Linked DNA regions of Homo sapiens: region 1 is linked to region 2. Evidence: fine-mapped expression QTL. A gene starts in region 2. The other region holds a variant in brackets. All regions are shown on one strand. Distances are between the middles of the regions.

The links. PIP is the estimated chance that this variant, and not a neighbour inherited with it, causes the effect.
Region 1: its variant is the best candidate, but not a certain one, in a credible set for the expression of BCKDHB in whole blood (INTERVAL, PIP 0.52).

What each region holds. Positions count from the first base shown.
Region 1 is chr6:80,205,103-80,210,495 of GRCh38, reverse strand. The region is part of intron 8 of BCKDHB (branched chain keto acid dehydrogenase E1 subunit beta); the gene reads right to left. Among named protein-coding and RNA genes, the nearest start is that of BCKDHB, 100 kb to the right of the region's middle. The variant A/T (reference allele first, on the strand shown) is at 2,728.
Region 2 is chr6:80,103,734-80,109,126 of GRCh38, reverse strand. BCKDHB (branched chain keto acid dehydrogenase E1 subunit beta) reads right to left here and starts at 2,456. Exons shown (of 10, transcript NM_183050.4): 1 at 2,238-2,456. The coding sequence starts at 2,433. RefSeq lists enhancers at 2,114-2,193, 2,160-2,660 and silencers at 2,244-2,343, 2,374-2,573.

The DNA.
Region 1 (5,393 bases), 100 kb before region 2:
ACTCAGAACAAGAAACTGTTACCAGCAACTCATAGCCCTTACACACTCTTCCAATTATTAACCACTCTCATGATAATCACTAGCCTGACTTCTAACATCATCAATTAGTTTTGTCTATTTTTTACCTCTATATAAAATAAATCATTCAGTATGTACTTACTTGAGTCTGGCTTCTTTGTGTTTATGAGATGAATATACATTATTCCATTACATTTTTAGTTCATTTATTCTCATCGCTGAACAATATTATACTTATTATTGATCCATTCTCTAGTTGATGAGTACTTCGGCAGTTTACAGTGTGGGGCTACTAGAAGTAATGTTCCTATGAACGCTTCTGGTTTTTTTTTTTTTTTTTTTGTATATTTCTTCACATATACACATACAGGATTGGAATTGCTAGGTTATAGGGTTCAGGTAGATACTGCCAAACAATTTTCCAAAATGGTTGTACAAATTTATGTTACCAACAATAGTCTATGAGAGTTGAATTGCTCCACATTATTGCCAACACTTAGTGTACCTTTTCAAGACTGTTACCCATATTTCTATTGGATATTGGTCTTTTCTTTTTGATTGTGTAAGTACTTTATATTTCCAGATATAAGTTTCCTTGAGTTTCTCCAAATCTGTAATTACCTGTTTACTCTCTTATTGGCACCCTTTTGATGAATAAATTTTCTTAAATGTAATGAAGCACAATGTTATCAGCCCTTTTTTAACGTTAGTGTTTTATTAGTGCACAAGATCACATGAACATATTCACCTATGCTTTCTCCCAAGAGCATTATTTTTTCCTTTCACAATTAGATCTGCAACTCAGCTGTAACTGATGCTTGTGTGGTAAGAGTTAATATAATTATTTTTCATAGTACCCAAATGAATCAACATCCTCTATTGAGAAAACTACCTCTTCCTCTCAAAATTGCAAAGTCACCTTTGTCCTGAATCAGATAACCAGCAGGTCTGTTTCTAGACTCTTATTTTATTCCATTGGTCTATTTGTGTATTTTTATACCTATATAATGTTATAATTACTACAGCACTAATAACACATCTCAACATTTGATAATTAAGTCCTCCAGTTTTGTTCTTCTTCAAGATTGCTCTGGCTCTTCTTGGCCTTACAATCCACTAACATGCTATATGCTTCAGTTTATGGGCCTTTAATTTTCCTAAATAATATTCTGTGATTTTCTGTGTAAAGTTCTGACATACGTATCACGAAATTTTTCCCTAGACAGTCCTAATATCAAGAGGAAAGCTGTCAAAATTTCACTAGGAATTATAATTTTTGCTGCAGGCATTTTGCAACTAATCTTCACCAGAGTAAGATAATTATCTTCCATTTCTAGGTTGCTATGAAATTTTAATCATGAATAAATATTGAATTTTAATAAATACTTCTCTTGCACTACCAAGGTAGTCAGGTTTTTCTTCCTGTTTTCTGTTAACATGAGGAATTGTATCAACTGCTTTGTGAATATTTATGAACATTATGTGCTCTACATTTATTTTAAAAGCTGTCTATAATTTTCCTTTCTTATACTGTCCTAAATACGTTTGATATTAAGATTATGCTGGCCTTATAAAAAGAATTTGAAAGTTTTCTCTTTGATTCCACTCTCCGTAAGGGTTTGCATAAGGACTACATTTTAGAGAATTCACCAATAAAGCCATTTAGGCCTGGGGTTTTCTCTGTATGAGAGTTAATAACATTAAATTTAATTTTTTAATAGATCATGACTATTCAGATTTTCTAATTCCTCTTGTATCAATGTTGAATGACTTATATTTTTCCAGAAAATTGTCAACTTTACTCAAAACTTATTTGTAAAATTATTCATAACATCCTCTTTGTCTTACCATTGTCTGTGGGCTCTTCATCATACAAACAAATATTTGTCCTTTGTTTCTACCCTATTTTTTCCATTAGTTAAAAGTTTATCAATTACATTAATCTCTTCAAAGATCTAAATTTTACTTTATTAAATTTCTCTACAGATTCAATTTCAGTAATTTCTGCTCTTAATTACTTCATTTCTTCTACTTTCTCTAGGTTTGATTTTCTTTCTGGAGATGGAAATTCAGATCATTAATTTTTTTAATTCTTATTCCTATTTCCTAAATTTATATATTTACAGCTATAAAGTTTCCTCTGAGCATGGCTTAAGCTGGTTCTTGAAACTTTTGATATATTCTATCTTCATTAACATTCAGTCCAGTTTCTTTTCTAATTTTTGAGTTTCTTCTGTAATCCACGGTTATTTAGAGTAAGGTACTTAATTTGTAGGAAGTCGAGGCTTTTCTAGTTGTCCTTTTCTTTCACTTGATTTCTAACTGAATTCCACTATTGTTAGAGAACATAATCTCAATGACTCCAAGCTTTTGGAATTTTTTAAGGTTATATTTATGCCCCAGCATTTGGCCAATTTTGACAAATGCTACATATTCTATTGATAGTTTGGTGCACAATTAGGACAACTTTACAAATTGCTTTGTTCAGATCTTCTATACACTTCACGAGATTTTGTCTGCTTGATTAAGCAAGATTTAAGAGGGATGTCTTAAAGTCTCCTGCTGTAACTGTGAATATGTTCATACCTCTTCTGAGTTCTGTGTTTTCTTTGTTTAGTTTATGGCTTTATTTATTTTCAAACTATGTTATTAAGGATGAAATAGACTTAGGATTATGATATATTTAAGGTGGACTGGTCCCTTTGGCAT[A/T]ATGAAATGCTCCTTTTCACTTCTAGTAGTCCTTTTTGCCTTAATGCTTTATTTGAAATTAGTGTATCTACACCAGCTTTCTTTTTCCATCCTTTCATTTTCAACATTTTGATGTCCTTATATTTAAAGTATGCCTTTTTTAAGCTACACATGGTGGTGGTAGTTGTTTTTCATGAAGTCTGAGGATCTTAGACTTTTACTAGGTTTATTTAATCTTTTTGTATTTAATTTAATTACTTCTATATTTGGGTTTATATCATCTTATCATCTGTTATCTATTGACCCATCCATTTTTCATACTTATTTATTTTGGATTAACCAAATATTTTTATTAATTTATAGTTCTCTTATTAACTTGCTAGATATGCATTCATTCCCTGTTATTTCAGTTGTTACACTGGAGATTATAACTTGTATCCTTGATTATAACCTAACCAGAACATTACACTTCATAATAATCCTAGAACAACAGAATATTTTAACTCCATGTAAGACCCCCTAGCTTTTGTGTTTTTATTGTCTTACATTTCAATTCCATATATTTAACTTAAACTTCACTAAACTTAAACTTTCACAGAAAATTATGACTACTGTTTCGGATAATCAATACTAAGCTATAGTGTATGCTCTCCTCCATATTTTCTTTTAGAATCATTTTCCTTCTGCCAAAGGGAGCTCCCTTGCAGTACCTTCTTTTAGTGAGAGCCTGCTAGTGATAAATTCTCTCAATATCTGTTTGCCTAAACTATTTTTATTTCATCTTAATTTTTAAAAGATATTTTCACTGAATATAGAATTGTAGGCTAGCACAGTCAGCAATTTAAGATGTTATGCCATTGTGCATACAGGTGTGGTTTTCTTTGAATATAATCTTAAAAGTTAACAAAGCTTGTGTAATGATGTTCTGAAATCTTCATGAGAATTTTTTTTTAGATACTGTTAGAGATTTTCTCTCTCTTCTTTTTCTGGAATTCAAATTGTATATAAGACAGATCTTTTGACCAGATCCCAAATGTGTTTTATCCTCTTTTCTGACTTGTGCTTCAATTTGGACATTTTCTATTAACTAGCCTTCCAGTTCATTATTGCTATCATCTACTGAGTCCGATATGTTATAAGCCTATTCATTGAGTTCTTATTGTCAGATATATATTTCTCTGATGGCTCCACAAAGTTTACTTGATCCATATACATACATGTACACACACACACACACACACACACACAAACTTTCTAGGGTAATTCTCCACCCTCTTACCTCTTTTGTTCCTTATTTTCTCTATGTTCCTAAGCATAACAATCAAGATGTTCTTGTCTGCTAACTCCAATATCTGGATCAGCTGTGCTTCTGCTTTTTATTGTTTCTTTCCCCTTTGTTATTGATCAAATACTCCTGTCTCTTCATCTACTTAGTTTTTTATTGAATGCTGGTTTATAGAAGTTCCAGATAATGAGAGGATTGACTCCTTGGCTCTGCTGCGCAGATAGAGTAAAAGTACATAATTCAATAAAAAATTCAAAGGGGTAGAGGCTGTATTGTGGGTTTGAGATGACCTGGTCTACATCTGGTTTGCCTCTAATTGTAAGACCTAACTCTCCATGGCTTTCAATTGAGAGTATGATGGGTCTTTGTCACTTCATTACCAAGTGATAGCTTCACTTTCCAGATATTTTCTACTTACCTTTCACCATTCACACCTTTAGAATTTGGCAAATAAAAGGTCAAGTATGTGTTTAAATCCCCTCAAAATTTCAATTTTGTCACTACAGCCCCACAAAATATGAGTTCTATATACCTGGATTCTACACACCTGGTTGAGACCAAATAGCAAGTGTAGCCAACTAAAAAGCAGCTATAGGTCATCGGTGTCAACATGCCACTCATTTCAGGGCTTTGAACTCACACAGCTGATTCTCTTAAGCCAATCCACCTACACACACACACACACACACACACACACACACACACACACACACCCATGGCACAGGGTAGGTCTCTGTCTCTTAAGCACTTCAAAACTCAAGAATTTTCTACTGTGCTTTTCAGAAGTCTCCAGCTTAGCTTTTTAATATCAAGTTCAGAATTGAGTGGAAAAACTAGCTGTGGTTTCTAGGACCATTTAAGTCTCTAATTTTTTAACTCCCTTGAGCAACAGTCAAAGACTCTGCTCCTTTCTCTATCCCCGAGCAAATATTTATTTTGGTTTATAACTTCCAAACCATGTATCAAGGATTAAGCAAGAAGTATGAATTCCTCAAGTGTCCCAGAGGCATTTTAGTGTATAGAGTATGATAATGTGTGTTCAACGAATCGTTTTTGCCTTTAATATGCTTTCTTTTCTTGATCAGGCGTTCCAAAAGATATATATTGGGGTTTAGTTGACACACAACGAATAAAACTCAGCGATCTAATGAGTCATAAGACAAAAACAACTGATAAAACACAGCTAATTAAAAGAGATTATAATATAAATTTTGGTTACTATAGAATTCATCAAGATGAATTAAAAAAGCTTCACTCTGGGGGAAAAAAAACCCTCATTTTCCATATAAATATTTGGTTATAGGGCCCTCTTCTTTAAAATCATCTCTAAATCCTAGCAGGAAAAAGCTAAGTATCAAAATTTTACCTCTTTTGATACATCAAAAGAAAACAGGAGAGGTAC
Region 2 (5,393 bases):
TGATTCCGGGGTCAAGAATTTAACTTGTAAAAGACTTGTAGCATCTCTACTCCATGGAACAGTTCTTCTAAATTCTCAAGAAGGTTATAAAAACTCCAGTGAATTGTAGGATAATTCTTCCGACTAAATAAGTTGTATTTGTATTAAAACTAAAAGTATGGAAAATACGAAACTAAAAGGAAATACCTGTAAGGATACACCCAAAATGTTAGCAATATTTACTGCAGTGGGTGGTGATTTTTGTTTTTTGGTTTTTTGGGGTTTTTTTGAGACAGAGTCTTGCTCTGTCACCAGGCTGGAGTGCAGTGGCACGATATCAGCTCACTGCAACCTCTGCCTCCCAGGTTCAAGCGATTCTCCTCCCTCAGCCTCCCGAGTAGCTGGGACTACAGGCATGCGCTGCCACGCCCAGCTAATTTTTGTATTTTTGGTAGAGACCGGGTTTCACCATGTTGGCCAGGATGGTCTCGATCTCTTGACCTGGTGATCCGCCTGCCTCCGCCTCCCAAAGTGCTGGGATTACAGACGTGAGCCACTGCGCCCGGCAGATTTTTTTTTTTTTTTTTTACTTTTTATCCATTATCCAAATTATCTGTTAATATGTTTGTATTATTTTTAAAATAAGAACAAGTTTATATATATCATGATATATATCATGATAACATGATATCATTTTACTTAGATTTTAGTAAGTTTACAACTATGGAAAGTTGGACTATTTCTCAAGTATTAGACCAAAATTTCTTTGCTTTGAAGACAGAATTTGCTTTGAAGACAGAATTGAGGGCTCATCTTGGTGGTGGAAAAAAAAAAAAAAACACCTACTATTAACCTTTATGGTACCTACTGTTTCACAATACTGGGACGCCCTCCAAGTAAATTATATCTACACGCATCTTAGTACATTGTTTAGAATGGAAGCTCTGGAATCTGATCAATTAGATTCCAAAGCTGGAGCTTTGGAGCTACCACTAACTTACCTGTGTAATCTTGGTCAAACTGTCTCAAGACTCCATTAACCTAACTGCAAAATGGGAATAAAAACTTTACTAACCTTTTAAGGTTGTCCTAACCCTTAAATGAGATGATGAAACATACACACAGCACCTGACCCTGGTAAGCACTCAATAACTGTTCATTCTTATCCACAAGACACACTTCCAAAAATGTCAGCTCTAGCATGCACATGAGAAGTTATTAGACAAGGAAGCAATACATGTTTCCCTACAGTTTCCTGATATTCTGAAGAGAGACACTGGATCTGATATTCTGATGAGAGACATTACATGAAACTTGCAGAAATGGTAAAAATCATGCAACAGTCATACTATGAGGAGTTTGCTACATGCCCTTCCTATGGCTTCCTCCTCTCATCCCCTTCACCTCCTTGGCTAAGTGGCAGCATAGCCCAGGACAAGCTCAGTACTAAGCTCAAGTAGAAAGTCTGAATTCTTTCACATCTCTAGGAAGGACCTGTTCTGTGACCTTGGGAAAATCAGTTCAATTACTCAGAATTCTGTAGGTAAGAAGAAACCAAGGGACATATATACATATATGCATATATATATGCATATATATGTGTGCATATATATATATGCATATATATATATATGCGCACATATATATGCATATATATGCGCGTATATATATCCACACATATATATATGTGTGTGGATATATACACACACACACACACACACACATACACACAATTTCTGTATGTAAGAAGAAACCAAGGGACTGAGTAACTGAATTGATTTTATATACATATATATATTTTATATATAATATATATAATATACATTTAAAATATATATATATAAACATATATATATATCTTTTAAATGCCTCTACCTAAGCTAGTGGCCCAGTCCTGGCCAGGCTGGAACAACACCTAAGGCCTGGGTTGAGAAAGCAAGGACGGAGGACAGAGAAAAGGGAGGCGTTCCCTGGGCACCACCCCTCCACCCTCAGGCTCTTCCAGGTGGCAGTATGCCCTCTCACCCATCTCAAAGTTGCGGGGGAGGGGGGACTGCGTCTCGAGGGCTGAACAGTCACAAAAATAGAGCAAGAAGTGAACCACAGTTAGACCCTGAGGCAAGGAGGTTCCAGAGAGTCAGGAAGTTAATAAGCTGGGATGCAAGGATTGCAGCCTGCCGGCCCCTGCCCCTCGCGGGCGCCTGCGAGCCTGGGAGTCCGGGCTGCAGCGGGACCGAGTGGGCAGTCCCAGGGCTCACCGTACTCCCGGGGCTCCGGATCTGGCTGGAAAGTAAAATGAGCCACCTGCCGCCTCTGGGCCGCATCCTCGACAGTCGCGGCGGGGTGCAAAAAGCCCCGCGCCAGCCCCGCGCCAGGAAGCCGACGCCAGTGCCCCTCAGCCCCTGCCGCCCTGAGCCTGAGTAGCCAGCCGGCAGCCGCCGCTACAACCGCCATCCCCGCTCACCACCGGGATTCTCAGGCTATGCAGCCGCACGCCGCCTGCGGGGAGGGCGGAGCACCCGAGGAGGCTTCCACATTGGTCGGGCCAGAGGGGCGGTCCCATGAAACAGACCAATCGGAACTGGAAATTTAGGGGCGGGGAAGGCGACGTGACGAGCTGGTCGGCTTCTGCTCCTTGTGCGCATGCGGAAGAGGGGAAGTGTGGGCTAGAGGTGGCGCCAATGAAATAGTTTCTGGGGTGGAGCCTCCCCGAGGTCGGCCGTGCGGTCCTCGGGTGAGGACCCGAGTTTGCAAAGTTCCACACAGTGCCTGGAGGCGATCTTTTCCGGTGTCATTTACAGTGCCATTTCCAATGGTTTAACATCCATACTTTTTTTTAAATGTAACCCTTTTTTATCCTGTCCTGTCTCTATTATTGTGTGAGAGGTGAAGAGAGCTACTGATTGGCATTGGTTATTGTTTTGACTTTCGAAAAACTGCTGTAGTCACTGCTCAAAGCTTTCACTCCTTATTCACACCCTCCTTAAAATGCTTAATAAGCATATATAGATTTTTATTGATTTCGTTTTTCCACATTTAAATGAGAGATGAAAGAGGTAAACTTAGATTTCATCCTGCAAATCCACTGAATAGGAATTCAGATACATTTTGCCCAGAAGTAGCAAAAATTACCTGATTGGCTTAGTCTAAGTAGCTTAGAAACCTGGAGAATTTGAGTCACTAATTTTCATTTATAGTAATCAACTATGTAAATTTGTTTTAATCTAAGTGTTTACCAGGATACATTCTCTGTCCATGAATTTACTAAAAAAAAAAAAAAGCACATAAAACATGAAATATCATAAAATCAAATATGACAAGAGACAACAGAGACAGTGTGTCCATCAGATGAAAATGGGAGGGTGGGGAAGGATGGTCCCAAAACAGAATTTGAAGAAGAAAGTGGGAGTGGAGGAAAAGAACATTCCTCTTCCATTATGCCTTGCCTCTTAACCCATCTTTGGTTTTGCACAGGGGCAAGGGAGGAGAGGGTAGAAATGGGGCAAAAGGAGAGGCAGAGAAATGTGTTTTCTGACTGAGATTAAGAAACAGCAATTGAAAACTGCCAAAGGGAGAACCAGAATTATGTCTCCATTTTTCCTACCCCCACACTAAGTCCAAAAATTCAACATTGGGGAAATTTTTTATCTTGGCTTTTGTTAGTGTTCATTTCTGCTGTTTTAATAGTGTGGGGTAGAGTGTTTTGCATGTGCATGAAGGGTATTTTTGTTTTAATGAAGGAAGGGGTAACAAAATGAAATTACATTTACATAGTCAAATTTGGGTTTAAACTAAGGAGAGTAAAGAACAAGGATAAAAATGAATAGAGCTTTTTTTCTATTTGTTGATAGTTTAGGGAGCTGGGGGTACTGAGATTATTTAGGTCGGGGAGAAAAAGAGAAAAATAATAACTGATGAGAATTTTATTGAACCTCTGCTACGTACAACCCAATGACAAGCCACCATTGAGACAAATAAGATCAAGGCATAGTTTTACTTCTAAAATGTCCAAGGTGGTAGAGAAAAGAGACAGATTAGGCAACTACAATCCAATGTGATAGGAGTCCTAGAATAGTGCAAACAAAGTGAAACACAAAAAGAGCAATAAACTCTTATTTGAAAGTCAAGTGTTTCCAGATATAACTCTGAGCTAGACCTAAAAGATGACTAGAAGTTACCAGGCAGACTAGGGAGAAAATGGCATTCCAAACTAAGAAGAAACCTGTATAAAGGCTGATAGGCATGAAGAGCACAGTGCATTCCAGGAAGAGAAAATAGCTTGGTGCTTCTAGATTCAGGGTGTAGGGAATGATACAGGGTTAACAGAAAAAGTAGGAAAAACAGATTAAAGGGAGATTTTGAAGGTCTAAGAGGTTTGAACTTTCAACTACATGCAGCCAGGAAAAACAAACAGAGCACCTGCCAGATTCACCTGTTTTGCAAACTGATTTTTTAAATTTTCCCCATCTCTACCACACCATTTGCCTGGTAACCATGAAAATGTCTATGTTATTACAGTGGGACTTTCCTCCATTCCCCTTGCCCTGGCCACATTTACTCAATTTGGGAAACTGTCCTTTTCTGGGAATTTTGGAAGTGTAGTTTAGAAAGAAAGATCAGATTATCTTTAAATGCCACTAGGAACTGCAAAAAATGGGAGTTTTCAGTAATTTCGTGAACCAGAAAAGGTGAAGAGTGTGATTATATTTGAGTTCCTGATTCCATTTATTCCCAAGGCCTAACTGCTTTCTGGTCCTGGGGTTCTATGAGACATCACCGTATCCTTAAAATGTATTCCCCTCTTTGTTTAAGCTATTTCCAATTGCAGAACCCATGACTATGGAGTTGGAATACAAAGCAAAGTTGCTCTTCACCCTTCAGAATGACTCTTGCATCACTTGCTCTCACTGAGCTTCACTACCTGTGCAACTTGTACCTGTTTAGTCTCAGCTTGCTTTTAGACGACCATTTTATATAGCAAGATGATAGTTTTGCAGTATTACATCCTGGCATCTGCCTCCTTTCAAACTCAAACAGAGGTATCATGGAGGCAGAAAAAAAAGAAATCAAATTATTGCTTTTGAATTTTAAAATAGATTTTAAACTTGATAGCAGAGACAATAATTTGAGAGAAAAGTTTGAATTCTACAGACTGGTTTCTGAGTATTAAACCTCAAAAACCTGAATGAGTTAGGAAACAAAGCTTAGGGCTAAAAGAAAAGATTGTAAATCACATACCAGTATAAGAGATGGTTTGTCTCACCTTCCATGGAGGTACAGCTATAGATTAGAAAGACCTGTAGGTATCCTCCTTTGTAGATGAACCTAGAAAAGTATCACTAAATCCTCAGGCTACCCAGCATGTCATGGCATTTGAAACAGCAGGATGCTTCTCCCATGTGGCCAAGAGAGAT